4 separate regions of the Homo sapiens genome follow, and all the other regions are linked to region 4. The links come from fine-mapping of genetic effects on gene expression. A gene starts in region 4. Each other region holds a variant in brackets. All regions are shown on one strand. Distances are from middle to middle.

Region 1 (8,775 bases), 130 kb before region 4:
TTTACAAAAACTTAACATAACAACTTCAATTATGATTGATAGCATATACTCAGATATTAGAATTTTAGAAACCCCAGACAATTTTGGAACACATATTAGTATTATTCAACAAAATATAGCCTAAAGAAGACTGAACACCATTTTGGCAATCCCATGTAATGAAACATGTCAAATAATCTTGTTTATCTCTTTTCTGTGTACTCCAGGGGCCCTTCTGAAGCATCTGAAAAGTCAGGTGTCAGGAAAGACAATTTTGAAACTGAAGTTTGATTTTAAGAAGCCTGTTAAATATGTTAGAGGTTTAAAACATTTGATGTTATGAAACAGAATTCCAGATTACATAAATTATTTATTTTACCAAAATTATGACTCAGAAACTTTAAAAAAGCAAAAACCTTTTATAACCCTTTACAAATTTTGGTAAAGAGCAGTTGAGTGCCTTAAGAGTACCTTGTGTGCTTATTTTAATGCTCAATTTACAGAAAAACTATATAATACCCTTTGAATTTAGTCAGTATGTTCACACATGGAATTTTTGCAAGATTAACTTTTACAATCCTCCCATCACTTGTTTGAACTTTTAACTTCATCCTACTTAATTTAAAACAATTATTTAACCCTAGGCAAGAATTTACACTTTTAAGCCTTCTTATAACCTTTTATTAAAAACACATTTTACTGTTCTCACACACCTTGCATGTAAATCTATTTCCCGTAGTCTCAATTATATGTCATAATGGTAACTTTTAGCAATTTTTAACTTTAATGTAAAACCTGGTACGTTGTTTTGATTATATGCTACATGCAGCCAAGGCTTGACCCCTTCCAGCATAATTAAGGGTGTGGCTAGTTCCATATGTCCCCAGGCCTTACCTTCTTATTCTTATGTAAATATTCCTCCACCAGGGAGAAAAGCTTAATTGCTGGGGACAAAGCTGGACTCCCTGGCCAAGGACTGGGAGACTCCCTGGCCAAGGACTGGGAGACTCCATGGTGCATGGCAGGGAATGCCAGCCAGCCGTGTGGGGTGCCTTAAGGCCCTGGCAGCAGTTGTGGCTTATTGCTGCCCTGAGTAGCTGTTGAACACTGCACACACATGTGGCAGACATGGCCATGCACCCCAGGCAGCAGGGAAGGGGGAACAGGGAGCTGTCCCACCCAACCATCCCATGCATGCACCCACCTGTGGCTGCTGGGACGGGTGTGGACCACCTCCAGTATTGTAAAAGGAAAGATAGGTGCCATTACTCTCCTGAAAAAAAATAAGAGGAATGTCATAGGACCAAAAGGCTCAGAAGCAAAAGTAAAAGGTTTTGGGTCTCCATTTTACTCACCCTTCCTCAGGTCCCACATTCTGGGTACCAAAAACTATAAAGCAATAAATCCCCATTCTCCCCTTCCCCAAGACCCTGGAAACCAGCATTCTACTTTCTGTCTCTATGCATTTGCTTACTCTAGGTACCTCATATAAGTGAAACCATACAATATTTGTCTTTCTGTGATGGGCTTACTTCACTTACCGTACTGTTCACAAATTTCATACATATGGTGGCATGTATCCAAATTTCATTCCTTTTTAAGACAAATTAATATTCCACTGCATGTTTATACCAAACTTTATTCATTCATGTATCGGTGAGCGTTTGGGTATTTCTACTTTTAAGTTAAATTAAGTTTAGGCCTGAGGTTGCCTCTATACTTGAGTCCTTATGTGGCAAACTGCAACATTGGTAGACAGACTACTAATTGAAAGCTTAATTTAGGAGTACATAAACTCTTCTAACAACTGGCTGAGTTCTAGTCAATCACAGCAGCTGAGCTTCAGTCAATTGCAGGTGGCCCACTCATTCAAATAAGGCAAAACACTGAGCTGTAACCAACTAAGCTGACTGTGCATTACATCTGTTCTCCATCCATAAATGTTATCTGACCACTTTGGGGTCCCAGAGTTCTTAGAATCTATTCTGGTTCTGAGGGCTGCCCAATTCCAGAATTGTGAATCAAAGCTAATTAAGATATTTAAACTAAATTTATTGTAATTTTGTCTTTCGATACCACCTTTAGGCTACTGTGAATAATGCTGCTATGAACATTGGTGCAAAAGAATCTCTTTGAGTTCCTGCTTTCAATTTTTTCAGGTACATACTGAGAAATTGAATTTTGGTAATTCTAAGTTTAGCTTTTTGAGGAACCACTGTACTATTTTCTACAACTGCTGCTCCATGTTACATTCCCATGAGCTATGCACTAAGGTTTTAATTTCTCCACATCTTCACCAACACTTGTTATTTTGTTTTTTTTAAATAATAACCAACCTAATGAGTGTGATCATTTATTTTTATACATGTGCCAATTGTACTAATAGTCCTAATTATCTTTTAATAGAAAATTTAAAGGATGAGATAAAGATACAGTTTGAGTACACTTTATCCAAAATGCTCAAAATAGAAGTGTTTTGAATTTTAGATTTTTTTCAGATTTTGTAACATTTGCATACATATATGCAAATCTTGAGGATGAGACCCAAGCCTAAACACCAAATTCATTTATGTTTTATAGCAACCTTGTACACATAGCCTGAAGGTAATTTTATGCAATAGTTTAAATCATTTTGTGCATGAAACAAAGTTTTAACTGTTTTGACTGCAACACCTCACATGAGATCAGGTGTGGAATTTTCTACTTGTAGCATGATGTTTGCACTCAAAAAGTTTTGGATTTCAGGGCATTTCAGATTTTGTAGTTTTACATTAGGGATACTCAACCTATAAAATCCATATTTTTAAATAAATTCAATTTGTATGTATTGTTTCTCAAATATTATGTTTATCCTAAAAAATTAACATTAATATTAATGGTTTAGGTAAACACAAAGTAACATATAATACCTTGTTATATTCTAAAGCTTAGTTCAGCACTTTGTTATATCACTGAGTTTTAATGGCTATCATCTGAAAAAAGTTTATTATACATATATTTATATCCACATGGAAAAACTACGTTATTGGTTGTAAACCCTGAAGTTTATTTTTTTACTTGCATTCACCAATTTTCAATATTTTTGTTAAAATACATCTCGTAAATTTTTATCTCTATGATATCAGTCTGTTGTCTTATAAATAAATCAGAAAATATTGTATTTTCTTACTGTAGATTAAATATCCCTAATCTAAAAATCTACAAAGTTCAAAACTTTTTAAGCACTGGACATGATGTCATAAGTGGAAAATTCCACACCTGACTTAATGTGATGGGTCACAGTGGAAATGTAAGTGCACAGCACAGTTTACTCAGTGTCCCCAAGAAAAAAAGACCCTCTCAGCCCTCTTCAGCTGCAACATATTTTTTTCCATGCATGCCCACACTTCCCCATGCAAGCATGCCTGCAAAGGGTAATAAAATGCCACTTGTGCAGGGTGAATGCACCAATGGCAGATTCCCTGCAATGACCCACATGGACCAGGACCTA[T/A]GTGCATTACTCACTGTTTTTTTGCTTATTCTTTGCTCTCTGATGTAAAGATACTGTTGGACATGTCAAAAAGGCCTGCAGATACCCTATGATCATGGTAACAAGTGAAAGAGGAAGCATTTATGTTTATCTATAGCACAGAAAGATACACTGTTGGAGAAACTGGACAGCGGTGTACAAGTGAAACAGGAAGCATTTATGTTTATCTATAGCACAGAAAGATAAACTGTTGGAGAAAGGGGACAGCGGTGTAACTGTAAAATGTCTTACAGAAGAGCACAGTGTTGGAATGTCCAGTATTTATGACGTGAAGCAACAGACAAATAAACTGCTGAAGTTCTATGCCTAAAGTGATGAACAAAAATTAATGAAAATAGAAAAACACTGTGCAAAGCTAAAAATGAAAATATTGATTATGTATTGAAAGAATGGATCCACCAGTATTGCATTAAACACATGCATATAATGATATGCTGATCATAAAACAAGCAAAGATCTATCACGATGAACTGAAGAGAATTGTGAATATTCAACAGGCTGGTTGTAGAAATTTAAGAAAAAATGTTGCATTAAATTTTTTAAATATTTGTAGTGATAAAGCATCTGCTGAACATGAAACAACAGAGAAATTCATTGACAAGTTTGCCAAGGTCATCACCAAGGAAAATTTGACACCAGAACAAGTCTATAATGCTGATGAAACATCACTGTTTTGGCCTTATTGAGCCAGAAAGTCACTGACTGCAGATGATGAGACAGCCCCTACAGGAATCAAGGAGGCCAAGGACAGAAGAATATTTGCATACACTACTCTGTGTATGCAAGATATCTTGGAGATGGGACCCAAGTCCCATCTGTGCTGGGCTGTGCTAATGCTGCAGGCATGCATAAGTAAACCTGATGTGATAGGGAAAAGCTGTGTCCTTTCTGTTTCCAAGGAATGAATTTCTTACCAGTCCATTATTATGCTGACAAAAAGGCATAGATCACCAGGGTCATCTTTTCCGTTTGCTTTCACAAACATTTTGCACCAGCATCTTATGCTCAGAGCAGGGAAGCTAGACTGGGTGATGACTGCAAGATTTTGTTATTCCTTGACAACTGTTCTGCTCATCCTCCAGCTGAAGTTCTCATCAAAAATGCTTATGCCCTGTACTTTCCCCCAAAATGTGACTTCATTAATTGTGACCAGGGTATCCTTAGATCAATGAACAGTAAATATAAAAACACTCTACTGAACAGCATGCTACAGCAGTGAAAAGAGGCATGGATGTGGAAGATTTCAAAAGGAGTTTAGCATGATGGCTGCTGGATATGTTGTTACCAACCCTTGGAACACAGTGATTAATACATAGCTGTGCATGCCTGGCACAACCTCTGGTCTGTGACTCTGTTCAGTGAGGATGATAAAAAAGTTGGTGACTTTGAAGGATTCTATATATCAAGTGAGAAAAAATGATGTCTGACCTCCTTACATATTCAAAAAGATATACCTTCAGTGTTCATCAGTAAGCTAGAAGAAGTGGATATTGAAGAAGTTTTTAACATTGATAGAGTCTCCAGTTGTTCATTCATTGATCAATGGTAAAATAGCTGAAATGGTTCTGAATCAGGATGATCAGGATAAAAGTGACAATGAAGATGAAGTTGTTAACACTGAAGAAAAAGTGCCTGTGGACAATGCGGTGAAAATGTGATGGGGTTATTGAAAGACTAGAGCAGTGTGCATTAATAACAGAACAAGAGTCATGTCTATTTATAAAATCAAAGAGAGACTTTGAAGACAAATATCATTGTTAATGAATCAGAAGACTCTGGAGGAAACATTTTAAAAAGCCATCCATCAGGCCAGGAGTGGTGGCTCACAACTGTAATCCCAGCATTTTGGGAGGCCAAGGCAATTGGATCACCTGAGGCCAGGAGTTCGAGACCAGCCTGGACAACATGGTGAAACCCTGTCTCTACTGAAAATGCAAAAATTAGCCGGGTGTAGTGTCAGGTGCCTGTAGTTTCGGCTACTCGGGAGGCTGAGATAGGAGAATATCTTGAACCCAGGAGGCAGAGGTTGCAGTGAGCCGAGATCACACCATTGAACTCCAGCCTGGCGACAGAATAAGACTCTGTCTCAAAAAGAAGAAAAGCCATCCAGAAGAATGGCTCCTTATCCCTAGACAACCTACCACTTCCTGGTCTCTTAACTGCTTCTGATAAAAAAATAAAATACAGTTTGCACTAAGCTTTTAGTCAAAACACAACATCATCGGTGGAGACCGAAAGCCTGCTGCTGTTGGTGGTTGCTGATGTTTAACAGTTGATACAGGTTTTCTGGTGATGCTACTGTGCTGCTTAGTTACCCTGAACACATTATTTTTTCACTGCACTCATGGTATCTCATACTTTTTACTGTTAAGTACTTGCGTGTGAACAAGCATAAGAAAATGATTGCTTTTTAGTAGCACATAAATTCAGAGTCAGGAATGATGGTGATGCCAAACAGCATAGACTATTTACATGGGTGGCTGAGATTGTGACACTTTTGCTTTCTGATAGTACAATGTATACAAACTTGGTTTATGCACAAAAGTATGTAAAATATTGGATAAAATTACCTTCAGGCTATGTGTGCAGATGTATATAATCATAAATGAATTTCGTGTTTAGACTTGGATCCCATCTCCAAGATATCTCATTAAGTGTATGCATGTATTCCAAAATCCAAAATCCAGAACACTTCTATTCCCATGCATTTCAAATAAGGGATACTAAACTTGTATTATCAAACAGTTTGAAAACCCACTGTAACTCTTTATTTGAAATATGTTTTTAAATAGACAAAAAATTTACTTGTCAATTTTTTAAGTTTAGATATAAGAAAATTTGTATGGGACACATACACATTGTTTGGCAGTAAAATCATGGAACAATGGAAACATTTCCAAACATCCAATTTTAAAATGCTTTGTTCATAGCAGGAGTTTCTTTTGAAAAGCAATTACTTTTACATTCATTGTTAAAACATTACTTTAAACTTAGGGGATGAATTAAGTGTGTTTATATTTTCAAAAAAGGTCTGGTGGGTAGCATACTATTGACAGACACTTGTCATCACAGAAAAGAACAGAAAATCTGGAACACTTGTCTTTTCATTTTAAAAAGATGCAAATTATACATCTCTAAGTTAATTATTCAGTACTTTGCCATGATAAATGCAGAGAAAATTTTATGGTAATAAAGATTTTCACAATCTCTTCCCATCTCATTGCAACATCTACTCTTTTATTTAATTTTTGTAAAACTAAGTGCACCCACACAGTCTGTATCAGAAAGAGGGCAATACATCAGGATAGGATGTTGTAAATGAATGAGTGGAGTGGGGCACTGTCAAGCCCACTGCTTGGTGTGATTCCCAGTTGTAATAAAGCAAATGACCATAAAATATCTCCTTCCTTCTATCCTTTGCAATGTGACTTTGCAGCTCCTTTCGAAGAGAGAAATTACTTCCACTTCCCTTGAATCTGGGGTAGTCTTGTGCCTTGCTTTGGCCAACAGAGCATGGCAGAAGCACCACAGTGCCCGTTTCAAACCTGGCCCACTAGACTCTTTGCCTGCTTCTGCTCTTGCTTGTGGAACTCTGCCACCAGGTGATCAAGCATGGGCTTCTTACAAATACGAATCCCCAGGGCACTTCTCCAGAGATTCTGATTCATTGGGTCCAGGGATTTATACTTTTATCAAGCATCAGAAGTAATTCTGATTCAGGAGGTCTTCAGATAACACCTCAGAAAACACTGCAAATCTGGATTACGAAGTGGCCTCAACTCCAAGCATATTATCAGAATCAGAAAATACATATGAACTAGGGTCCACTCAGAGCAGCCTACACTCAGCGGTAAGGTTGCATCAGTGTATGCTCCTGGTGCATGTAGGGAGTATCCCACATTGTGACAATATTGATACAGCAATTAGAAGGAGGACCTCCAGAGAAGAGCAAAAGAAGTGCCCCTGGAGGTTTTCCTGTAGGTCAACTTTGCAGGATTCCTGAGCTTGACTTCAGCTCTGATTTTGTCTTTTACTAACTTCATGATCTTGTATAATTCCCCTAATCTCTCCAAGCTTTAGCCTTCCTATCTATGAAGTGGGAATTCTAACTGTGTCATAAGTTTATTGCAAGAAGAAAATGAGGTAAGTTGTAGAAAGCACTTAATACAGAACCTGGCATACAGAAGATGTTCAATTATTTATTATTCTTGTTTCATTATGATATTGTTATCCTTAGAAACCTACTCCTCTTAGGATGTGGAGAAATAGGAATGCTTTTACACTGTTGGTGGGAGTGTAAATTAGTTCAACCATTATGGCAGACAGTGTGGCGATTCCTCAAGGATCTAGAAGTAGAATTACCATTTGACCTGGCAATCCCATTACTGGGTATATATACCCAAAGGATTATAAATCATGCTACTATAAAGACACATGCACACGTATGTTTATTGCGGCACTATTCACAATAGCAAAGACTTGGAACCAACCCAAATGTTCATCAATGATAGACTGGATTAAGAAAATGTGGCACATATACACAATGGAATACTATGCAGCCAAAAAAAGGATGAGCTCATGTCCTTTGCAGGGACATGGATGAAGCTGGAAACCATCATTCTCAGCAAACTATCACAAGAACAGAAAACCAAACACCACATGTTCTTACTCATAGGTGGGAAATTAACAATGATATCACTTGGACACAGGGCGGGGAACATCACACACTGGGGCCTGTCAGGGGGTGGGGGGCTGGGAGAGGGATAGCATTAGGAGAAATACCTAATGTAAATGATGAGTTGATGGGTGCAGCAAACCAACATGGCACATGTATACCTATGTATCAAACCTGCATGTTGTGCACATGTACCCTAGAACTTAAAAGTATATTTAAAAAAAGTTGAGGTTTTCCCATTAATTTCCCATTAATTAAAAAAAGCCTACTCATCTCAAAGGGCTAATTTGCATTTCTGGACATCTCCAAATCCCTCAGTGGAAGCCTGTCTCACATATAGTCAAACTCTGGAATCAGCCATATCTTGGTTCCCGTCCTCAACTCCACCACATGTGACTTCAAGCAAGTCACTTATAAATCTCAGTGTTTTCATCTGTAAAACAGGGACAACAACATTACCTTCCACCATAGGGTTGTGAATATTAGAAGAGTTAATGTTCAATACCTCACACACTGCAACCCACAGCAAATATTAGCAATTAGCATTATTTCCTCAGGGCTATTCTTCATAAATTCTGAAATCCAAATCAAG
Region 2 (8,775 bases), 29 kb after region 4:
TGGGAGCCAAGTTTCTCACTGTTGGGGTGGGAATTGATAGTTGAGCAAGGAGGTAGGGCTAGGATGATTCATATGCTAATGGATCTGAGTTAAAGATGTTGGTAGGAATTCATGTTTAGCTTAATACACAGATGATTTCGTCTAGAAATATTTTTACATATGTGTACATATGGAATTATTATATGCACATATATTTCTTTATCAGCTGAGACAGCTCAAAAGCAATGACACCCCAGTAGCAACAAGTACACCTAATGCCCAGATCTTGGTGTTTCTAATAAAATATCAGTTAGAAGCCACAGTGGCTTTTAATACCATTTCCAACAAAAGGAACCAGGGTTCCTTGGAGAAATGGCTGATTCTAGAACTAGGACAGAAAACATACAAGACGAGCCTGGGGCATGTTGTAGTGTCAGAAAGTAAGGAAGTACAAAAACAAACAAACAAAATACTACCATAATTGTATGAGCCTGTGAAAGGAGCACAGGCGCCAACTGAAAGAGCTCCCAATGGTCAAAGATGAAACAATTTGAGCAATAAAAATAAAGTAATACAGGATTACCACAAGTATAAAATAAAGTGAGTCCATACTGATATAAACAACTAAATAAATTAATAAATGGAAGAGACTAATATCCCATGCAGAAAAATTCCAACTAATTTATATAGATACTCTGCTCTCAAGGAAAGAAACATAAATCCTTACTTCTTAAATACGGGCTGTGCATATCTCCTTCCAAATAATACATAATAGAAACCAAGTGAAAAAGAGTAACTCTATTGTGAAGAAACCTGGCGAACACTCACTCAACAATATGATCAAAATCAACAGTAATAAATCACGTTGATAGTATGTAGCTTTGACACGATGTGATGAAATGACACTGCACCTTTGTAATCTTTCTCTCCAAAACCTATAACCCCAGTTGAGATATGAGAAAAATAGCAGATAGATAAATTCCAACAGTGGGATACAACAAAATACCTGGACAGTACTCCTCAAATCAGTTAAGGTCATCAAAAATAAAGAAAGGCTAAGAAACTGTCATAGCCAAGAGGAGACTAATGAGATATGACAAATAAACATAATGTCGTGTTCTAGATGGGATCCCGAAACAGAAAATGTAGGTAAAGCTAAGGAAATCTTGACAAACTTGATCTTTGTTAACAATAACGCATCAATATTAGTTCATTAAGTATAACAAATGTACCATACTAAGGTAAGATGTTAACAATTGGAAAAATTGGGTTTGGGGGTATGTATTAATTCTGTACTGTCTGCTTCATTTTTCTACAAATCTAAAATTGCCCCAAAAAAGACTATTTTTTTAAAAAAGAATCCTGGCAGCCCAATGCAAATATGCTTCTGTCTCATGTTAAATCCTCAAATGCTCAACATCCACTGAACCTTTTCAAACAACAACAGCTGGCAAATTCTGTTTACCTCTGGCATCTCAACTTCGTTAATGCCGCCTTACCAGTGATTGACATGGTGTTATATCAGTATTCTATTGCTTCTTCTCACTTCTGTGGACTTAAAATGAATTATCTGGGTGATATTACCTGCTCCCTCTTTCTAATAAATATCCTAGAGAGTGGTTGCATTTTGACTTCACCGTATACTCAGACTAGGGAGCATGCCAGCAGAACCTATCTCCTGGTTTTCCATTGTTCCCTAGATAGCTCTGTTTTGGTAATTAGTTAACATTGGCACAGTTCCAGCTTCATGGGTGTCCATGTGCTCTCTCTTTCCACTCATTGCCTCCTTCTTCTATTTAAGTTAATTAAATAATTACTTTTCTCATTATTTTCCGATAGTCATCCAGGGGAAATAACATGCTCAAAACTATAATTTTCAGCATATATTTCAGAGATCCTTTAAAGAAACATTCTCACCTAGAGCAATTTTTATTTTCTGCAGCTATTGACAAAAGCATTTCCTCCAGCAGTTGAAAAAGCTGCCTAACCAGCTGGTTTACCAGCATGACTTGTAGTTGGGTTTCCCAATAGAAGTCCCCACTGGGCTTGCACATTGGTGAAGGGACATGTAGTAGTGGCACTTCTCCCCGAGCTAAACAACTGAAGGAGTGTTTTCTCACTCTGAACAAGAGTGCATATACTCTTTTCCTGATGTTACGTACAGTTAGACTCTTTCCCATAATAAGAAATTGAGACAGGTTGTGTCAGTTAATGGAGTTTTATTCTAAAGATGGAGGGAAGAAAAGGGGAAAGGAGGTGTTTTCAGCAGCCACACAACCAGAAAATAGGCAGAGCACCCTAGGACTGCATATAATGGAAACTCAGTTACTCTTAGCTTCTGCTGCTATTTGTCTTACCCCTACCAACTAATTGACTGATTTTCTCAAATTCAAACTACTCAAAAGAGAAGATATAATTTGATCTGCCTATCACAATCCAATTTAAGCTACTCATGTTTTCTCCTTCTCCTCCTCATCCTCTTTCTTTCTCCATCCCTTTTGCTCAGCCTTCCTATAACCTCTAGTCCTTTTCTCTTTGGGGGCTCCAAAACACTGAGTAGGTCACAGTATCCTGAGTTTTTGTGATGTAGAGTCCTCAAAAACCCACACATTAATTTCAAGCAAGCCACTCAGAAACCCAGATGTTGCAATACTATTTGATAATGGTGAGAATCTTCCCCCTTTTAGAAAGATTTTGTGCTAGGCTTCCTTATCATTGCTGGCTGAGCTACGAATGGCTGCCTTTGGGTCAGGTGCTCAGTTGGGTCTTGTCACCTGGGACCAGGAGATGGGATCATGTCATTTAAAGTGCAACAACCAATTCACTAGGAAACACCCAGATAGAAGCCATGGGTCAGGAAGAAAATGAATCACATACTACTCTTTTCCATAATAGACCAGTGTTCCCAAAGTTCCTTCAGTGGAAACACCACTTCATTGGGAATGCAGTGTGCATTTTGTGAAAAAGGATCTTCTGATAAATTTCATTCCACAAATATTTATGAATGATTACTAAGTTCCAGGCACAGTTCTATACTCTTAAATATCTGAGGAACGCTGTGTTACACAAATTAAACAGATTTTTATGCTGCAAAACTCTTACCACTTTTAACATGCCAGTGAGCCCAAGTGAAGGGCTATAGATTGTACTATCTCTCAAATTTATAATACGAGTGCTCTTTTTCTGAAAAACATTTCTTAAGCCTCATATTACACAAAACATACATCTTGAGAGACACTTAAGTATACAGTTGAAGATCCAGGAAATCACACTGTCAAAGGACACATGTATTGTAGCTAGTCTCCACAGTTACCCCCTACCCCTGATGAACCACATATCCTGGTATTCATACTCCTATGTAGTCCTCACCTACTTTGAATCCAGGCTGAACTTGTGACGACTTACTTAGCCAACAGAATGCGGTAGAAGTGACTGTATGCCAGTTCCAGACTCAAGCTTCACAGCCTCTTAAGAAGTGTGGCTACCTTGCTGGAAAAACTGCATGAAGAGGCCACATGGAGAAAAAGAGGTTCTCAGACTATTTGGAAAAGACCAAGGAACCCACCCTGCAGGAAGAACCGAAGTCCCAGATATATGACCCTGTTGAGCATTAGCCAGATGCCATCATTCATGCCATCCTAGATGAAGTGACAGACATGGGAGTAAAGAAGCCTTCTTGGATGTCCCAGTCCCAGTAGCTATCAAGCAAATCCAAGATGAGCCCTCTCTGTATGTCCAAGCCAAATGCCCAATGCACAAAATTGTGTGAGATGATAAAATGCTTGTTGTTTTAAGCCACTAAGTTTTGAAGTAGTTTATTAGGCAGCAATAGTTAAAAAAATATTAACTATTCTGGAAAAATTACTACATAAACAATGTATTGCACCAAGATTACATTTATAAACACATATGTCTATTTCAGAAATGACCCATTTTAGAGGAAATACTTTAAATATCATTTATTTATAGAGACTTAAATAATTTCATGGTTTATTATAATAATTTTCATTCATTTACTTTTGTACCTCTTTATCAGTAAAAATTAAAAATCAAATAAAAGTTATAAAATATTTAATCACAGAGAAACCAATTTAATTGTACATATTTCTTGCAGTAAACAAATTAAAATGCTTGCATACAATAAGAAACTAAGAAAAAATTGGATTGAACTTGAGACACGCATTTGTTTATAAGAGGCTAATCTAATTAAAAGCACATCTGTTTGTTTATGCTGCAAGAAATCTCAATAGCAATTAGGAAATTATAAATTCCTAACATAAAAACTAGCCCTAATTTTAGTCAGAGGACAC[C/T]ATCCTGTTATTTATAAGCTTGGGGGTACTAATTATTTACCGTGCAGAAGGTAAAATGCACTAGTGAAACACAGTACTCCTTCTCCTTCTCCTCCTCCTCTTCCTCCTCTTCTCTTCTCCTTCTCCTCCTCATCCTCTTCCTTTCTCCTTCTCTTTTGCTCAACCTTCCCATAACTTCTAGTCCTTTTCTCCTTCGATGTCCAAAATACCGAGTAGGTTATAATATCCTGCGTTTTTGTGATGCAGAGTCCTGAAAAAAAACCCACACATTCATTTCAAGCAAGCCACTCAGAAGCCCAGATGTTGCATTACTATGTTATAATGGTGAGAATCTTCCCCATTTTAGAACTCACCCTTTTCTAGGCTGAGCAGCCTAGTAGCATAAGATGCACAGGATCCTAAATCACAGTTCTTCTGTCCTTACATTAAAGCTGCATTCTTCTTGGTTAACATTACTAGGCATGACTTTCTGATATTTACACAAATTATTTCATACAGATGTTTTAGTATATGCAAATGACTAAGCAGAGTTGTTTAATAAGAATTTAAATATTTAAGACTAAGTTTTCATTTTGGAATTACAGTAACACATTTCAAGAGAATACAAAAAGATGCACTAAATAACATTATGTCCAATAAAGCACAAAGTTAATAATGTTGTTTAAGGAAAAACTGGAAGAAAGAGGGCATTTTTTTCCTATTTCTTTCAACCAAGTGTTTGGAGGCTATCATAGGGTTGTCTACTTTGTTTTGTGTTTCTTTTTAACATGTTGGCTTCAATTCTTCAGTTTTGACCTTTTGATCTGTCTTTCATCTGACAATTCCAGGACAAATGCTGGAGTATAACACATATTTAATGGAAGTATTATAATTCAGGCAGACTGGCATCTCTCTGGTTCCTATAAGAATTTATTTCTATCAAGCAACAGTAGTACTCTATGTTACCTCATTGGTTAGCATACAGTGCCTAGTGTTAACTTTCCTTTACCTTCTAATCATAAATTAGATTCTACTATGCTAATCTTAAGAGCAACCGTTGTATTAAAGGAAACAGATCACTATAATTCAATCTAAATTTACTTAGAAGTAATTATTTCATTAAAGGTACTATACCTGAATAGATCAAGAAACTGCTCTCTAGTTGTGTTTCTGCATAAATAATAAACTGACTGAGACATGAAAGAGTACCCTGAAGAAACTATAGATATGAGTACGGTGACTCACTGGTTTGAAGAACAGAAAGTTTCTCTGTGATGCTCCACAATGTTTTCCTTTCTTCTAGTTTTTTTTACGTTAACTTTGTGATTTGTTGGACATAATGTGTGTATACAATCTGCCCTCTGCAAACTGGAAAGTTACAAAAGCCCTTGGTGTAAATATTTAGCCTTAATCCAAAGGCTTGGGAACTGGGAGAGCTGACAGTGAAACTCCCAATCAAGTTTGAAAGCCTGAAAACCAGGATAGACCATTAGTGTAAGTTCTGAGTCTGGAGGCCCAATAACTGGAAGCTCTGATGTCCAAAGGCAGGACAAGATGAATCCACTAGCTCAAGAAGAGAGAGTGAGGACAGGCACAGTGGCTCACATCTGTAATTCCAGCACTTTGGGAGGCCAAGGTGGGAGGGTTGCTTGAGGCCAGGAGTTCAAGACCAATATAGCAAGACCTCGAGCTCTACAAAAAATAAAATTAGCTGGATGTGGTGGCATATGCCTATGGTCCCAGCTACTCAGGAGGCTGAGGCAGGAAGATCACTACAGGTTGAAGCTGTGGTGAGCCATGATCATGCCACTGCCTTCCAACCTGAGAGAGAGAGGGAGACCTGACCTTCTCTGGGGGGAAAAGAAGAAGTAGAGAGAGAGGGAGTGAATTAATCCTTCCTCCATCTTTTTGTTTTACTGAGCTCTGTAAGGATTAGACAATGCCCACCCACATGGGTGAAGGTGTGTCTTCTTTTTCCCAGTCCACCAATTCAAATGCTAATCTCTTCCAGAAACTTCCTCACAGACACACTGAGAAATAATGTCTTACCAGCTATGTGGGCATCTCTTAGCCTGGTCAAGTTGACAGTAAAATTAACCATGACAGGAGTAAACCTAGATAAAGCAAAAACTACAGAAAAACATATGCAAATATGTTTTACCTCTCATCAAATCCTAAAAAAATGATATTTTATCTAAAGAGAAAGAACCCAAGATGGATAAAATCTTTGATATGTTAATTCCATTTTTACTTTGTGTCTATGCATGGAGGAGTATGGGGGTATAGGTATACACAATACATACTTATGTACATACTTGTATAAAAATAAGACCAAGTTATTTTTTCACTTGGACATCAAGGTAGAGATACTATAGATGTCTGTTAAAACAGAATTTGGGGGGAAAATCTGCACTGATTACTCTTTAACCAATCAAACTAGTCAGGACTCCTTTGGTCACAAGTGAGTGAAACAATTCAAATGCAATTAAGACGAAAGTGTCTTTATAGGCATAAAGAACTGAAAAGTTTAGATGTAGTACAAACTTCTAACACAGCTGGTTTGAATGCTCAGAAGACATGAGGATTGTTTCTATGAATCCCTCAGCTCTCCGTCCATCTGTGTCAGCTTTACTCTGGAAAAAGTTTTTAATGAGGAATATCAGTTTGGCCCGCAGCTGTTCCAGGCTGCCATCCTAGACTAAAAACTTCAGCAGAAAGACAGGAACCAGAGAGATGCAGGTCTGTCATGCTAGGAGGTGTCCAGGGACTGCATCTTATCTTTCTGTCCTTGACAATAAACCCACCTATTCTAGAACTTATCACAAGGCTGGGGTGAGGGCAGTGTATGGAATGTTCTGACTGGCCAGACTAAGCCACAGGTCTTCTGGAACTTGGGGAGGGGCTGCACAGTAGGAGATGTTATTCCCACACAAATGATAAGAAAAGATGGAAAATGGAATAATTCACTAAGGAAAGTTGGAAGTTCTTCTACCAATATTGGGAGGGATAAATACTTGACAAATAGCACCTTCATATTAACCTGCTTAATTTCTTTCTTAGAAGGGTATACAATAGGATGGGGTGGGAAGATTCAGTTATTTGTACTTGATAGTTATTTGAATTCTAGAGAAGGGAGAGTTTATTCAGTTAAAAAAAAAGTAGATTCAAGAAAAGTTTAAGGACTGTGGAAAAGATAACTAGCTCTCAGGGACAGTAGCAAAGAGCAACTGGCCAAAAAATCATACTACTGAAGTTTTACAGTTGATTTCCTTTGCCTTTTCTGACCTAGCATCACCTTTTGAGCACCCTTTCCACATCTAGGCAACTTTCTGCCTTTTAATCCACCTCCACATGGTAGAAGCCAGAAAGCTCACTTTGCCACACTCACTTGCGGCGAAGCTACAGGCATATAACCTAGGCTACCCCAATCACACACACCCATGTGAGACATCATCCCAGAAATGAGCTACATGGCAAGGCAGGAGCTGAAGGAAATCCACATTTTGGCATAGGTAGCTGCTGAGATGTCATCTCTCAAGGTCAGAATGACAGAATTCCTGATGTTTCATATCCAGAGTGAGTGGTGTATGCTTTAGTGTCCAGTTGCATCAGAGCCTTTACTGCCACAATCTCACAATGTGGTTAGAGCATTGTTTCTGACTGCATAGCCTCCAAACCCAACTCTTTAACCCTCCAAAGACTCTCTGAGCTATCTAATATTCCTTAAGAAATATCCTTTTTCTGCTTAAACTAGCAAGAATCTTAATTTGTAAACAAAGACCCTAATTGAAACAGTGACTGTATCAAATTTCTAGGGCTGCCATTACAAACTACCACAGAGTAAGTGGCTTAAACAACAGAAATTTATTTTCTCATAGGTATGGAGGCTAGAAGTTAGAGATCAAGGAGTCTTCAGGGTTGGTTTCTTCTGAGGCCCCTCTCCTTGTCCAGGTGGCCATGTTCTCCCTGTGTCCTCACATGGTTTTCCCTCTGCAGCCATCTGTGTCCAAATTTCCACTTCTTATAGGGACGCTAGTCATATTGGATTAGGACTCACTCTAATTACCTCTTTAAAAACGCTGTCTCCAAATACAGTCACATTTTGAGGTACTGGAGGATTAAGACTTCAACATATAAATCTGGCAGAGACACAGATCAGCTTGTAACAGTGACCATAACTGTACCAGAGATAACAAAGAGGACCAAGATTTGCAGAGAAGAAATTTACCGTTGCTATCAAAGAAGTTAATGTACATACTCTACAAATGAAAGAGGAGTATTAAAATATTTATATTGGAAAGACAAATTTATGTACTGAAATTTACCACAAGTATAGCATGGTGTAAAAGAGAAAACTGAGCAATCGTTAGATGAGTTTACCAGTGCAGACACTAGATCCTAATAATAAAATTGGGTCAAAATTATTTGGATAGTTGACTAAACTTTATATTGAATGTTATACAGTGACCCCAACCTAAATTCTGTACTTACTGTAGGAATAAGTATA
Region 3 (5,000 bases), 34 kb before region 4:
GACAAACCTTCCTCCCTCACCAATCCATTCTTTCAAAAACAACAAAATCAACTAAAATTAAAGTAAGTAAAAGGTTTAGACTTTATTTAGGATCCTGGACACACCATTTTGCTTTTCTGTGCCAAATTTCTACACAAAGACTGAAGTGAAAACTGGCCATTGAGAGAGTAATATGGGAGCTGAAGGGCTAAACAGGTTTTCCTCCAATTGTCATAATTATTCTGGTTAAGCAGCCTGATCTTTCTGAGTCAAGAAAGTAACAGCTTAATGAGGTAGAGGGTTGACAGGCAGCAGTCCCCATCAAGGAGCTGATTCTCCATAGTGGCATTACCGGAGGTCAGCCTTGCCCATGGAACTAATGCTACTACAGCAGATGGAACCTGACCTAATTGCCAAAGCATTCCCAGGTTCAAATACAGAAGAACCCAGAATAACTACCATTTTCCTTCCCACTGTATCTTTTTGTTTTCAGGGCCAGAAACTGAATGCCAAAATCTATCTCTGAGAGAGCTCCTGGGAGTTTCTGTGACAGTCTCAGGTTATCACATTCCCTGCTGGGAAGGCAAACTTAAAAGTTACCTGCATGACTCACTGATCCCTAAACAATGGTATCTTTAGTTAGTTTTTTTGTTTGTTTTGTTTCGTTTTGTTTTTGTTTTGTTTTTGCCAGCAAGTCCTTTGTTTCTGTTAACAATAATGGAACAGGACAAGTCAAGGGATGTCTACAAGATAAATAGTATGATTAATATCAAAGGCCAGAGCAGAGTTGGGTTCTAAATTTCTCCCTCAATGTCTAAATGTCCATCACAGTTGAAACTCTGGGAAGCGGACCATAAAACCTAAAAAGCAAGGTGTAGAGCTGTCCCTTGGTAATCATGCGGATTTGTTCCCGGACTCCCTGTGAACACCAAAATGTGAGGATGTGCAAGTCCCTTACATAAAATGGTGTACTATTTGCATATAACCTATGTTCATTCTTTTATATACTTTAAATCATCTCTAGATTACTTATAATACCTAGTACAATGTAAATGTTATATAAATAGATGTTATACTATATTTGTTATTTATACTATTTTTAAATTGCTGTATTATTTTATACTGTTTCTTCTGGAATATATGCAATTCACGGTTGGTTGAAACCACACATGTGGAATGCACAGATGTGGAGGGTCAGCTGTATATATTTTAACAGAATCAGTGATATGTTAATTCAATCTAATTCAACAATAGTACATGAAATGAATAAGGGACCATTCCAAGGATCGTAATAAAGTACAAGGCATTATCCTTATCATCAAGATGCTTATAATTCAGGCATTTTTTCCAATAGCTATGGGATTTCCTCCATTTTCCCTGGAACAAAGAAAGTAGAATTGGTGGCAGCAGGCAACTGATGTCCAACTTAATGTTAGGCACCTAATTTTATCAAGTAGGTTTTCGCCAACTCCCGAGCCCCAACTCTGGCTAGTGAACAGGATTCCAAAAGGATCAACAAGACTCATTTAGTCCAGCACCAGGCACTGCTGCTATGCCTGAGAGATAGAACAGTGTAATAAGACTACATTCTCTCCTCAAGGAGCTCCAAGTCACTCTAACACTTCCAATCTCTTAGAAAATATCAATCCTAGATATGGGAACATAAAATATCTAAGCAAAGTGAAACTGGGAAGAAAATATTACTGACCTTTAATTTCTCCTGCCCGGGCTTTTTTGTAGAGTCCTTTGACATCCCTCTGTTCACAAACATGCAGAGGAGCATCAACAAATACTTCAAAAAACGGTAAACTTGCACCTTCATGAATTTGCCTTGCATTGTTGCGATCCTTAAAAAAAAATAAAATAAAAAGTGATCACACAAATCACAAACGTACTATATTAATATTAAAGATGAGTAAAAAGTGCTTCTCATCCAATTTAGTGGGAAATAGACAAAATTTATGTTTTTAAATATAAACTGAAAAAAAAATCCAAGAAATTATTAGGTTAATTCCTATTATTCATGACAATTTTAAAAGGCATACTGTTCTACTAACCCAGGATATTGGGGAGGTACAGAAGGAAAACAATGAATGTACCACAAACTTTTTCACTCAAATTCTACGTGGATCCTGAGCCAAAGCCCAGCCTGAATGCTGGTGTCATCAGGCTTCTCTCTAATATCACATTCAAACCCAGCCTGAGCTGGCATGAAAGCAATTTCACAAAAAAGATCCATTCAGAATCCTGAGGCTAGTTTACTTCTTTGCCAAATGCAAGCCCCCTGCAGCCACTTCTCCTCTCTAACACTCCCCAAACTTAACTTTTCTGCTCCTAACTCCCAACTCTCTAGTAACCACCCTTGCAGCTCCCTCTAAGCCCTCTCCACTCTGTCCTTTGGAACAATGTTTCCTTTGTAAATCAACCTTTTCTTCTTTCTGGTCTTCAAAACCTGATTCTCCCTTTGCTCCACATTTATACTCCATTAATCAAAGTGCAGTTGCCAATATTTTCAAAGCTGGTCCCTGCAATTTCTACCATCCTTTTTCCACACAGCTCATTTTAGCATTTGCCATCTTCCTTATGGTCCCTCTGACAATCCTCACCTACTTCCACTCTCACCAGATTACCATACTTCATGTTTCAAAAAAAAAAAAAAAACAAATCTCCAAGAATAAGCTCTCAATCTCTTCTCTTTCAAGCAAAATCTCTTCTCTGTCATACAAATTTATCTACATACTAATGATCCTTTTCTCCCTGCCACTCCTACCTTCACATACTAGGAATTCCCTCCCCTTTCATGAACTCCTACAGGACCTGTTCAACCCATTCTCTCTACTCCACCTGAAATCTTCAGCATTCCCCCTTTGCTGGGTTCCCTGCTCCCCAGCAACAAACAAGTACAAGTCCATTTAAAACAAATGAACTGCTAAGGGAAGTTCACCCATTTAAAACAAAACAACTGCTAAGGGCAGTGGTGTAGCACGCTTATAGTCCCAGCTACTTGGGGAGGCTGAGGCAGGAGAATCACTTGAGCCCAGGGGTTCCAGGCTGTAACACACTACAATTGTGCCTGTGAATAGTCACTACACTCCAGGCTGAGTGACAGAGTGAGATCTTGTCTCTAAAAAAATTTTCAGC[A/C]TAATGAACTAACAAATCATATAAAAACTTTCCCTTAACCATAGGTCCTTTTCAGTATTTAAAATACCAGGCCTCTTTGCTGCTTTCCCACTGCTATGCCTATGGATGCCTATAATGTTATTCCCTGATCTTTCCTAGGCAGACTCCTCCTGGGCTCCTCCTATTTCACCCATCCCTTAACACTGGAGTTGCCCACACTCCCATCACAGCCCACTGCTCACCTTACACAGTTCTTGAGCGTTTCTCTCAAGTGCCTTCACAGTATAAACTACAACACATACATCAACACTGAAGCTTGAACCCTGACCTCTGTCCTGAAATTAAACACACATGTCCAAATTCTTCCTATGTCCACCTGGATATATCACAGGTGCCAAAAACTAAGCATGTCCAAAACTAAATCCAGTCCCTTTTCTCTCAAGTTTACATTCTCTCATATGCTTCCCAAATCAAGGAAGACCACACTACACACCCACAATCCTAAGAGTGGTTCCTTCCCTTTCCCATACATTAATTCAGTCACAAAGTCCTTCAGATGTTACTTCTAAATATTACACCAACCCAGTTTGCAATCTTTCCCTATTCCCTAGTTCAACCTCACTTCTCTTGTCTGAACGGCCTCAACATATTACAGGTCTTCTGGCTTCTAACTCGGATCTGCTCAAAGCCATAATCTACACTGTGGCAAAGGATGCAAATCTGACCATCCTACTGAACTCTTCAGAGACTCTCTGCCACTACTGGGGTAAAATCCGAGTTTCTTAATGTGAGGCATCAGCCCTATACCTGGCCCCACCATTCTCAGTCTTGCACTTGATGCTCTATTGATAATACCTGCCTGGTCAGGCTGTTTCTACCTTAGGCCTCCCCACGCCACAACCCAACCCCTACCAGCAACACTCAACCCCTCTCTTCTGGACAAACCAATGTGCTTCCTCACAGCACATCTCCATGGTGACCTCCTCCAGGAAGCCTTCCCTGCATGCTCAGGCTGATGAGGCCCCTTGCTTTCTCAGGGTTCTCAGAATACTCACTACATATGATCATAGATCTTTTTCCAGTATATTAAAATCATCTCATCAGCTTTACAAGTTTAGTGTCTGGAATAGCAATTAAGCTATGATCTTACTATTCTAACTATCCTTTTAAAGGAAAGTGTCAATGAGTTTCTATCCCTGTCTCTCATCTTATTACTCTTCTGTATCTAATCGTCCTCATCTAGGTTTCAACTAATAAAGTTAATGATTCCTAAATCTAGATCTCAATCCCATACAACTTTCCTAAACTCTAAAACCAATTTCCTAGATGGCCCAGTGGTAATCTCCACTTAGACTAACTCCACTAGCACTTCAAACATAACCCACCAAAAATGAAATACGCATGTCCTCCCCTCCTATCCTGTACTTCATAACTCAGTCATACCAACCTTTATTCAGAAAGCACCATGCTTCATTCTGCTCTCCCATAAAATCAGCAATCAAGCAGGCACCAGGTCTTACTGATGCTACTCAAGCCTCAAGAGCCCTTAAATATGCCCCCATCTTTACTAGTCCCATTGCTGCTGCTTGAGTTCACATCCTCTTCCCTGAAGGAGCTGGTGCTACGGCAAGCCTCCTGGCTAGTCTCCTACCTCCAGACCAGTCTCAATCCAGGCTTCAAGGATGACCTCACTCAAATGCAAACCCAATGATACCAATCTCTGTTATAATCTCAAACTATTAACTCCTTTTGGGGCAAAATCCTTTCTGAGCAGTGCAGAAGTCACCACCTAGCCTCTGCAAATTGATCAGCTCCATCTCCCCTCACAATCATCCTTCATATCAGTCACACCAACCTACCTACAGTTCCCCAAAAAAACAAACTGTCTCACATTCCATTGA
Region 4 (8,692 bases):
TTGTAATAGAGGATGATAACAGTAAGAGCTAACTCTAATTGTCACAATATCCCTGTGAGGCTATCATTCTCATTTTATAGATAAGCACATAGAGGCATAGAGAAATTAAGTGACCAACCAAAAGTTACATAGTTAATAAATAGTGGAGTCCAGATTTCAGCCCAGGCAGTCAGCTCCAGGGTCCTGCTTTTAACCACTGTCTCTCATAATATTCACCCTCAGAAATGTAACAAAAACTCAATGGGCTAATATAGGTAAAACATTTCAAACTGTTCCTGGCACACACTAAACTCTCCTTTGTGTTTAACTAATATCACCCTTACCCCCGTGCCCAACCTACTTCCCAATTTCCACACAGGTAACAACCTTTCTCCCCACTTCCCAGACCAAAACTTCAGGATCATCTTCTAACATTCCTCCCTTTTTCATCCCCTAAATCTAGTCGGTCCTCTCAACTCTTCCTTAAATGTTTTTAATGCAGCTACTCCTCTAGTCCCACTGCCACCTTACCCCAGCCCTTCAGCCCCTCACACTGGATGAATTAACAAGAACATAAATAGTGCTCATGTGCCAGGCAGGCTTCAAATCTATTAATTCATTTAAACCTTACTATAACCTTGTCTGGTCTCCAGGGCTTCCCCATCTGGGTCCTACCAGGGTCTACATTTCTTCAGCGGAACATTCTTCCTGGATTACCAATTTTATCCTGTGATAGGAATTTTAAAGGTATATGGGTTCTTCACACTTGTGCCTATTAAGATGATTTAAATATGAGAGAGGAAGAGATGACGGGTGTTCCATGAGGGAGAGAAAAATTTACAAGGATCAGAAAATTTAAAATTCTAGCCCCATCAAAAATCCCCCATAGAATCAAGTCTTCTCTGCAGCCAAACACAAGAGCATCACGGAGCCCCAGCCTCCCTATTGAACCTTACCTCCACTTCCCAACAAAAACTCTCCAGGGCAGTCAAACAAGTTTCGTCAATGTTTCTGGAGTAAAAAAAATAGTAATTTTTATTCCCAACACTTATCCATGCAGTTCCCCTCTGACTCAGAAATCTGAAATCCTCCATAAACCCTCCCAAAACGCCCAGGCGAAACTAATCTCTCCTCTAAATTGCAATAAAACTTCTGTCTTACGCCACTCACTCTGGACCACAAAGACATATTCACCACTTGGCAAATGTCACAACCCCAACACAAACCATGAACTACCAGAAGGCAAGCAGTAAGTCCCACATTTTTCACCACCATGTCTAGCACAAGTCTCTACATAGAATACGCACCATGTGGCAAATGTTAATAAATAAATGAGTACATAAATGGACAATGTAACAGAAATCATCTGTAAATACCCCAAGTAAGCCAACCTTATTTCCCTAACCGTGAAACACCTTAAGGTAAGAGAAGCGAAACTGAGTCTGAGTTTCAAGGCAGTGGTTTCACCGCACATTCAAATTCATGATCTGTCTTCTTTGTTCATCAAAACAATCCCGTGAAGTACATACTATTATACCCTTAAGTCAACTGAGGTTCGAAAAAGTAAAGTGACTCTCCTCAAGATCACACAGCTAGTAAATGGCAAAGCTGGGATGAGAGACCAGGCCAGGAGTCCAGCGCTCTTTCCACTGTTCTAATTCATCTTTTAAATCTCCTTCCCCTCCTTACCATCTATAGAGTTAAATAAAAGGAGAGAGGAATCAGTAAACAACTCATGATAACAATAACAACAGATGTGGTAAATTAATGACTTCCAAAGAACATTTGCCTGAAATTGCTTGTTTTTTTTTTCTTTGATTCATCTAGGGCAAGTAACGTTTTGGGAGACATTGCATTTAAACCTTATTATTCCATTGGACTGTGAAATAACGTTTCCGTCTAAACTTAAACCAGTGCCTTTCCAGACTCCAAAGATGGGCCCTTCCCTGCTGCACACTTACAAAGGAAGATAAGGCTCTTTCTCATCACAGAGAAATTAAGGAAGTAAGCAACGTTATGAGGACACAGCACTTTACAAAGTCAACTGGCAGTCATTACTAAACGTTATAAAGGACTGGTCCCATACCTGACTGTCACCAGGAATGGAGTCTTCCAAACTCCTACTTGTTAAACATTCCGATTTAACACAGAGACACAAAGAACCTCAGTTCAGGGCAGTCTCAACTCATGAATGACCACATTGTTGGGTACTCTCCTTTCACACTGAAACTCAGAAATGGAAAGACACGGAGATGGACCCAAACCTGGGCCAACCGCACTGGCAGAGCCAAGAAAAACCAAGAACGCGTCGAAGGCGCCCGCCTCCGCCTTCTCTGCACATCTTCAGGCCACTCCAAGGTATGCAGGAAGCTCCTGTTTCTGCAGCCGCAGGTTTCAGCACCCGGAGGTTTCAGCAAGCGCCAGTTCACGGGTGAAGGATTTTCCTGGGGGTCTTACCTGAGCGGAGGCGCTGGGGAGGGGGGGCGTTCTTCCCACGAACGGTGGCTCGGACCGCACGCTGCGCCAAGCTAGGGCGAGATCCCCACCCTGCGCCGCGCCCCTCTGCCTCGCAACCACCCACGGCCCCAGCCGGGAGGCGCCGCAGCCCCGGAACCCACCTCCGCGCTCCTGGAAGGATGGATGCGGAGGAGGCGGGAGAGAGGCGGCGGCTCCGGAACGAGCTGCTCCCACAGCCCCTCCGCTCCTCGCCGTCTCGCCTTCGTCCCCAGCTTACCCAGTTCTGCGCGTTATTGCTCAGTTTGACTTTCTTGCACAGGCTCCCGGGGATCTCCATGACCGCGGAGCGCGCTGAGCAGCCGGGGTTCTCTGCGCCGGGAGGGTAGCAAGAGGAGGGCAGGCCAGCGAGCGGGGCGGGGCTGGAGGGCGGGGCCTCCTCGCGTCGGAGCGGGCGCGCGCTGACTTAAGCACGCGCCCGTGCTCGTGGCCTGGGTTGCGCGGCGCATGCGGCGCGCCTCGGAAATGGGTCCGGGGCAGAGGTCTGTGGGGAAGGGCGAAACGCCGGGATAGAACCGGAGGTAGAAGCTGGGGGCGGAGCTTCAGCGCTCGCGCCGGCGCGGGCGCGCACGGCGCTCCTCCTTCCAGATCCCGATGAAGGGGCGGGGCCTGGAATGCAGTCGTGGAACCTCAGGTGCCTCTGCGGCACCGAGCCTAGCTCTGAGCTAACGCAGATCTCTAAGAGCGAGTACCAGCCGCCGGGAGAAAGGCAAGGGGAGTGCGCGGCTCGCCGCGCGCGGCACTCCCTCAGCAGAGGCTGATTGGGAGGACGCTGACGCGGCCTCTTGCACCTGTGGCTACTCCTCCACAGACCTGGCTGCCGACCTCCTGTCTGCCCCTTCTGTGCCCATGTCACCCTGGCCAAATGTTTTAAATGTTTTACAGCTTTGCAAAGGGAAGAATTGATTTACCGAACAGCTCATTCTCCACATTAAAATTCTACTCAAGACACAATTTTTTTTCTTTTTTTGAGACGGAGTCTTGCTCTGTCGCCCAGGCTGGAGTGCAGTAGTAGGATCTCGGCTCACCGCAACCTCTGCCTCCCGGGTTCAAGCGATTCTCCTGCCTCAGCCTCCCGAGTAGCTGGGACTACAGGCGTGTGCCACCACGCCCGGCTAATTTTTGTATTTTTAGTAGAGACGGGGTTTCACTATGTTGGCCAGGCTGGTCTCGAATTCCTGACCTCATGATCCGCCCGCCTCAGCTTCCCAAAGTGCTGGGATTCCAGGCGTGAGCGACAGCGCCTGGCCTCAAGACACAGTTTTTAAAAAGATATAATAAAAGCCCGATTTCTTGACATCAATAATTAATATCTCAACCTGGATTAGTGATTACTTATAAGGTGCCTCCCTCTCCGCTAGGAGACCCCACTTCGCATCAGATTTCTGTGCAGTGCTTCTTACCGACCTACACCGGAAAGGGGCTTCTGTATTATTAAGAGCTACTCAGGAAATACCTAGAGGACTGAAATCCAGGACCGGGGAGGCCGCAGGTAACCCCGAATAGAACTCCCGCCTACGGAGGACATTTTCAAATTCACCTAATTATTCCAGGGCTAGTTCGTAGGAGGATGGGCTGGGGGCATGACAGAGTTTCCTCCAGGAGTTATCTTCCCCACACCCCCCATAACTCTGAGTTCTCTTTTCCGCAGCTTGCCCCTGGCACCAAAAGAGTTGCTTGCAGCTCTGCCCCCCTGTGACACAGCCGCCCTCCGCCCCTGACCCCGCCCATCACCAAGACCTGAGACTGCTGCCTGTTAGTGACTAGCAAATTAGCCCCCATCACCAAGACCTGAGGCTGCTGCTGCTGCCTGTTAGTGACTAGCAAATCAGCCCCCATCACCAAGACCTGAGGCTGCTGCCTGTTAGTGACTAGCAAATCAGCCCTCCATCTATTTGCCCCACTGCTACTGTCTTAAATTAGGCCTCCCCTATATCCAGCCTGAGTTATCATTAAGCCCGTTCACTGGACATCCTCCCAGCTGTGCAGCCGCTCTCCACATCCCCGCCACACACCCCATTCTTGCACCTGCTGTCAGAGCGGTATTTCTGAAACAGAAATCTGATCTTGTTACTTGACTACTTAAAATGTGAATGGTTCCCTTCAGCTTTTTTTCTAGGGAATTTTCAATCTGGGGTTCATACATAGAACTGAATTTCAATATAATTTCAAATTCTGCCAATAACAGGAATGAGCTTGGAAGAAGATCTCAAGCTTCATATGAGAAAATAGGGCCACATCTGAAGTTAGCCATTGCTCTGAGTTCTGGTTCTTATTAGAGGGAAATGGTATTTAGATATAACGATCTGGCTCTAGGAGTGCTCACTGCTGTGAGTTTGACCTTATTTCTAGTAAAAGACTTTTTTTAAGGTAAAATATATCATAAGTTTACATTGATACTGTCCATCCAAATTCATGATTCCAGATATGGGTCATGCAAATGAGCCAGAAACATCAAACAGGAAACATAACAAAAAACTGTCAAAAGCTACTCGGATTATGTCAAAAGGACTCAGAAACCAATTTAAAGAAATTTTTCCATGTCAAAGATGGGAGAATTAAAGCACTAAATGGACTAGAACTACAAAATATTAAAACATATCAAATATGTTTAAATCTAGGTGTTTGTAATGATGATGATTTTAAAAAAAATTATTGTCACTCTTAGAGAATGCTAGGAAACCAACTCATTATTTTGAAAACTGGTAAATAAAGGGGATGAATTAAGCATTTACTCTGCTTTCCCTGGACTGTCTGGGACCCAAAAAATTGATAAAGAGAAGTTTCTCTTTACAGAAGTACCACTAATAAATAAAGAAGAAATGATATCATTTTAATATCACCACTTTTCATTTTCTACTGAAATAATGGATAAAGACAATGATCCTCTGTATTAGTCAGGGTTCCCTTAGAGGGACAGAACTAATAGGATATATACATATGAATGGGAGTTTATTAAGTATTAACTTACACAATCACAAGGTCCTACAATAGGCTGCCTGCAAGCTGAGGAGCAAGGAGAGCCAGTCTAAGTCCCAAAACTGAACAACTTGGAGTCCGATGTTCAAGGGCAGGAAGCATCCAGCACAAGAGAAAGATGTAGGCTGGGAGGCTAGGCCTATCTTGCCTCTTCACGTTTTTCTGCCTGCTTTATATTCCCTGTTAGCGGTTTAGGTGGTGCCAACTCAATTAAGGGTGGATCTGCCTTCCCCAGCCCACTGACTCAAATGTTAATCTCCTTGGGTAACAACCTGACAATGATCAATATTGCATCTTTCAATCCAATCAAGTTGACCCTCAGTATTAACCATCACAAGTCCACCCCTTGACAACTTGAACCCATACACATCTCCTGAGATCATTCATAATCTTCAAATAAGACAATAATAAGGTCATAATTATGTCTAACATAACTGAACTGTCCTTTGTACAACTGGAAATGCAGTCCCCAACTCACATACTATTACATAAAGTTAACAATACTTAAATGCTGATATGAAGTCAGTGAATCTCATATCACATGATAAAGGAAAAGGAAATAAAATGAAGATATTTTCTTAGTACAAGTGTATGCATGCACAAACATGTTTTTAACAAAAGAAGGAGGAAATTCTCATGACAATCACAGTCCTCGTTTCTGCAGCTGGTCATGTGCTCATAGCTGGTATTGATGACTACCTTTTTCTACTACCCATTCTGTATTCCCTTTGCCTTCAGCAAGTACCTGAACAGGTGGTGGTTTTTTTTTCCTGGTGGAGTGACCCAAACCTTCATTCCTGAAGGGTCTGGGCCATTTGTAGTCCTGCCTGGATTGGGCTGTTGTAGTTTCCCATTGACCTTAATCACAGGGTAATACTAAGAGACGAACTAATGGATCTCCTGTGTTCCATGTGTACTCTTTCTTACCTCCACTGTGGAGTAGTAGACTGATTGATTTCATCTTGATAGTCTGGGTCAGTCACCCCAGCTAACATTGTAACTCCCTTCTTAGTCTGTTAACTTAGAGGTAGGAGGAGCCCAAAGTGTCCAGGTGGCAATCTTAACTTATAGTTTAATGGAATTGTTTTGTCTCCTGGTGGCAGCGTTTCTCCCTCTGGAACTAAGACCTCTAGACCAGCAGAATGTAATGCCATAGAAACAGGAAGCAAAAATGTTGCTAGTGGATCACTAGGGGTGATGGTGAGTGGTGCCACTTCCACTTCCACCCCTTGATTCCTGGACCCGTGATTCCTGGCTACGGGAGAAACAGTACCATATATTGGATGCTGATTCAGAGCCTACACGGTCTTCTGGAAATCTTTGCCCCAGCCCTGCAAACTATTGTCACCTAGTCGGCATTGTAGTTGTGATTTCAAAAGGTCGTTCCACTGTTCTGTCAACCCGGCTGCTTCAGGATGATGGGGAACATGGTAAGACCAGTGAATTCCATGAGCATGAACCCACTGCCACACTTCTTTAGTGGTAAAGTGAATGCCTTGGTCAGAGGCAAAGCTGTGTGGAATACCATAATGGTGGATAAGGCATTCCGTGAGTCCACGGATGGTAGTCTTGGCAGAAACATTGCATGCAGGATAGGCAAACCCATATCCAGAGTAAATGTCTATTCCAGTGAGGACAAACCTCTGCCCTTTCCATGATGCAAGAGGTCCAATATAATCAACCTGCCACCAGGTAGCTGGCTGATCTCCTGAGGAATGGTGTCATATTGCGGGCTCAGTGTTGGTCTCTGCTGCTGGCAAATTGGGCACTCATTGGTGGCCATAGCCAGGTCAGCCTTCATGAGTGGAAGTCCATGTTGCTGATCCCATGCATAACCTCCATCCCTGCCATCATGGCCACTTTGTTCATGGGCCCATTGGGCAATGACAGGGGTGGCTGGGGAAAGAGGCTGAGTGCTGTTAACAGAATGGTTCATCCTATCCCCTTGATTATTAAAATCCTCCTCCACTGAGGTCACCCGTTGGTGAGCACTCACATGGGATATAAGTATCTTCACAGTTTTTGACCACTCAGAGAGGTCCATCCACATACCTCTTCCCCAAATGTCTTTGTCACCAATTTTCCAATCATGCTTCTTACAAGTCCCTGGCCATTAAGCCAAACCAGTGGCTACAGCCCATGAATCAGTGTATTATTGCACATCTGGCCATTTCTCCTTCCATGCAAAGTGCACAGCCAGGTGCGCTGCTCGAAGTTCCGCCCATTGGGAAGATTTCCCTTCATTGCTGTCCTTCAGGGATGTCCTAGGAAGGGGCTGTAGTGCTGCAGCTATCCACTTTCGGGTGGTGCCTACATATCATGTAGAACCATCTATGAACCAGGCCCTGATTTTCTCTTCCTCTGTCAACTGATCATAGGGAACGCCCCATGAGGCCATCAGTGCAGGCTGGGGGACAGAAGGCAGGGTGGCAGGAATGGGGACCATGGGCATTTGAGCCACTTCCTCATGTAACTTACTTGCGCCTTCAGGACCTGCTCAAGCCCTATGACAAATATACCACTTCCATTTGCTGATGGAATGCTGCTGTGCATGACTCACTTTATGGCCAGATGGGTCAGAAAGCACACAGTTCATGATAGGCAGTTGAGGTCACATAATGACTTGATGACCCATAGTCAAACATTCAGTTTCCACCAAAGCCCAGTAACAGGCCACAAGCTGTCTCTCAAAAGGAGAGTAGTTATCTGGAGAATATGTCAGGGCTTTGCTCCACAATCCTAGAGGCCTCCACTGTGATTCACCTATGAGACCTACCAATGGCCCCAAACAGCCTCTGTATCTGCCACTGCTATCTCAAGCACCATTGGACCTGCTGGGTCATATGGCCCAAGTGGCAGAGCAGCTTGCATAGCAGCCTGGACCTGTTGCAGAGCCTTCTCCTGTTCTGGACGCCACTGAAAACTGGCAGCCTTTCGGGTCACTTGATAAATGGGACAGAGTAACACACCCAAATAAGGAATGTATTTCCTCCGAAATCCAAATAGGCCCGTTAGGTGTTGTGCCTCTTTCTTGGTAGTAGGAGGGGCCAAATGCAGCAACTTATCCTTCACCTTAGAAGGAACATCTCGACAGTCCCCACACCACTGGACCCCTAGAAATTTTACTGAGGTAGAAGATCCCTGAATTTTAGTTGGATTTATTTCCCATCCTGTGGCACACAAATGTCTCACCAATAAGTCCAGTGTGTTTGTTACTTCT

Direction of the effects. Positions count from the first base shown, and alleles are read on the strand shown. Sizes are in standard deviations (SD) of each study's normalised expression. Not every link is listed here.
For the expression in regulatory T cells of the gene that starts at base 2,828 in region 4, T is the high allele of the variant in region 2 and C is the other (moderate effect, 0.63 SD a copy in Bossini-Castillo 2019).

What was found. PIP is the estimated chance that this variant, and not a neighbour inherited with it, causes the effect. A credible set is the group of variants that fine-mapping cannot tell apart.
Region 1: its variant is the best candidate, but not a certain one, in a credible set for the expression of PAPSS1 in unexposed skin (GTEx, PIP 0.62).
Region 2: its variant is the best candidate, but not a certain one, in a credible set for the expression of PAPSS1 in regulatory T cells (Bossini-Castillo 2019, PIP 0.87).
Region 3: its variant is the best candidate, but not a certain one, in a credible set for the expression of PAPSS1 in whole blood (TOPMed, PIP 0.85).

What each region holds. Positions count from the first base shown.
Region 1 is chr4:107,589,146-107,597,920 of GRCh38, forward strand. It overlaps LOC105377358 (a long non-coding RNA gene), which reads right to left and starts at 1,252. Exons shown (of 3, transcript XR_939059.3): 1 at 1,184-1,252. The variant T/A (reference allele first, on the strand shown) is at 3,470.
Region 2 is chr4:107,746,278-107,755,052 of GRCh38, forward strand. No RefSeq gene overlaps it. Among named protein-coding and RNA genes, the nearest start is that of PAPSS1, 30 kb to the left of the region's middle. The variant C/T (reference allele first, on the strand shown) is at 4,290.
Region 3 is chr4:107,685,352-107,690,351 of GRCh38, forward strand. PAPSS1 (3'-phosphoadenosine 5'-phosphosulfate synthase 1) reads right to left here. Exons shown (of 12, transcript NM_005443.5): 4 at 1,688-1,826. Among named protein-coding and RNA genes, the nearest start is that of PAPSS1, 32 kb to the right of the region's middle. The variant A/C (reference allele first, on the strand shown) is at 3,121.
Region 4 is chr4:107,717,407-107,726,098 of GRCh38, forward strand. It overlaps PAPSS1 (3'-phosphoadenosine 5'-phosphosulfate synthase 1), which reads right to left and starts at 2,828. Exons shown (of 12, transcript NM_005443.5): 1 at 2,714-2,828. The coding sequence starts at 2,773. RefSeq lists enhancers at 2,081-2,140, 4,131-4,280 and a silencer at 2,771-3,020.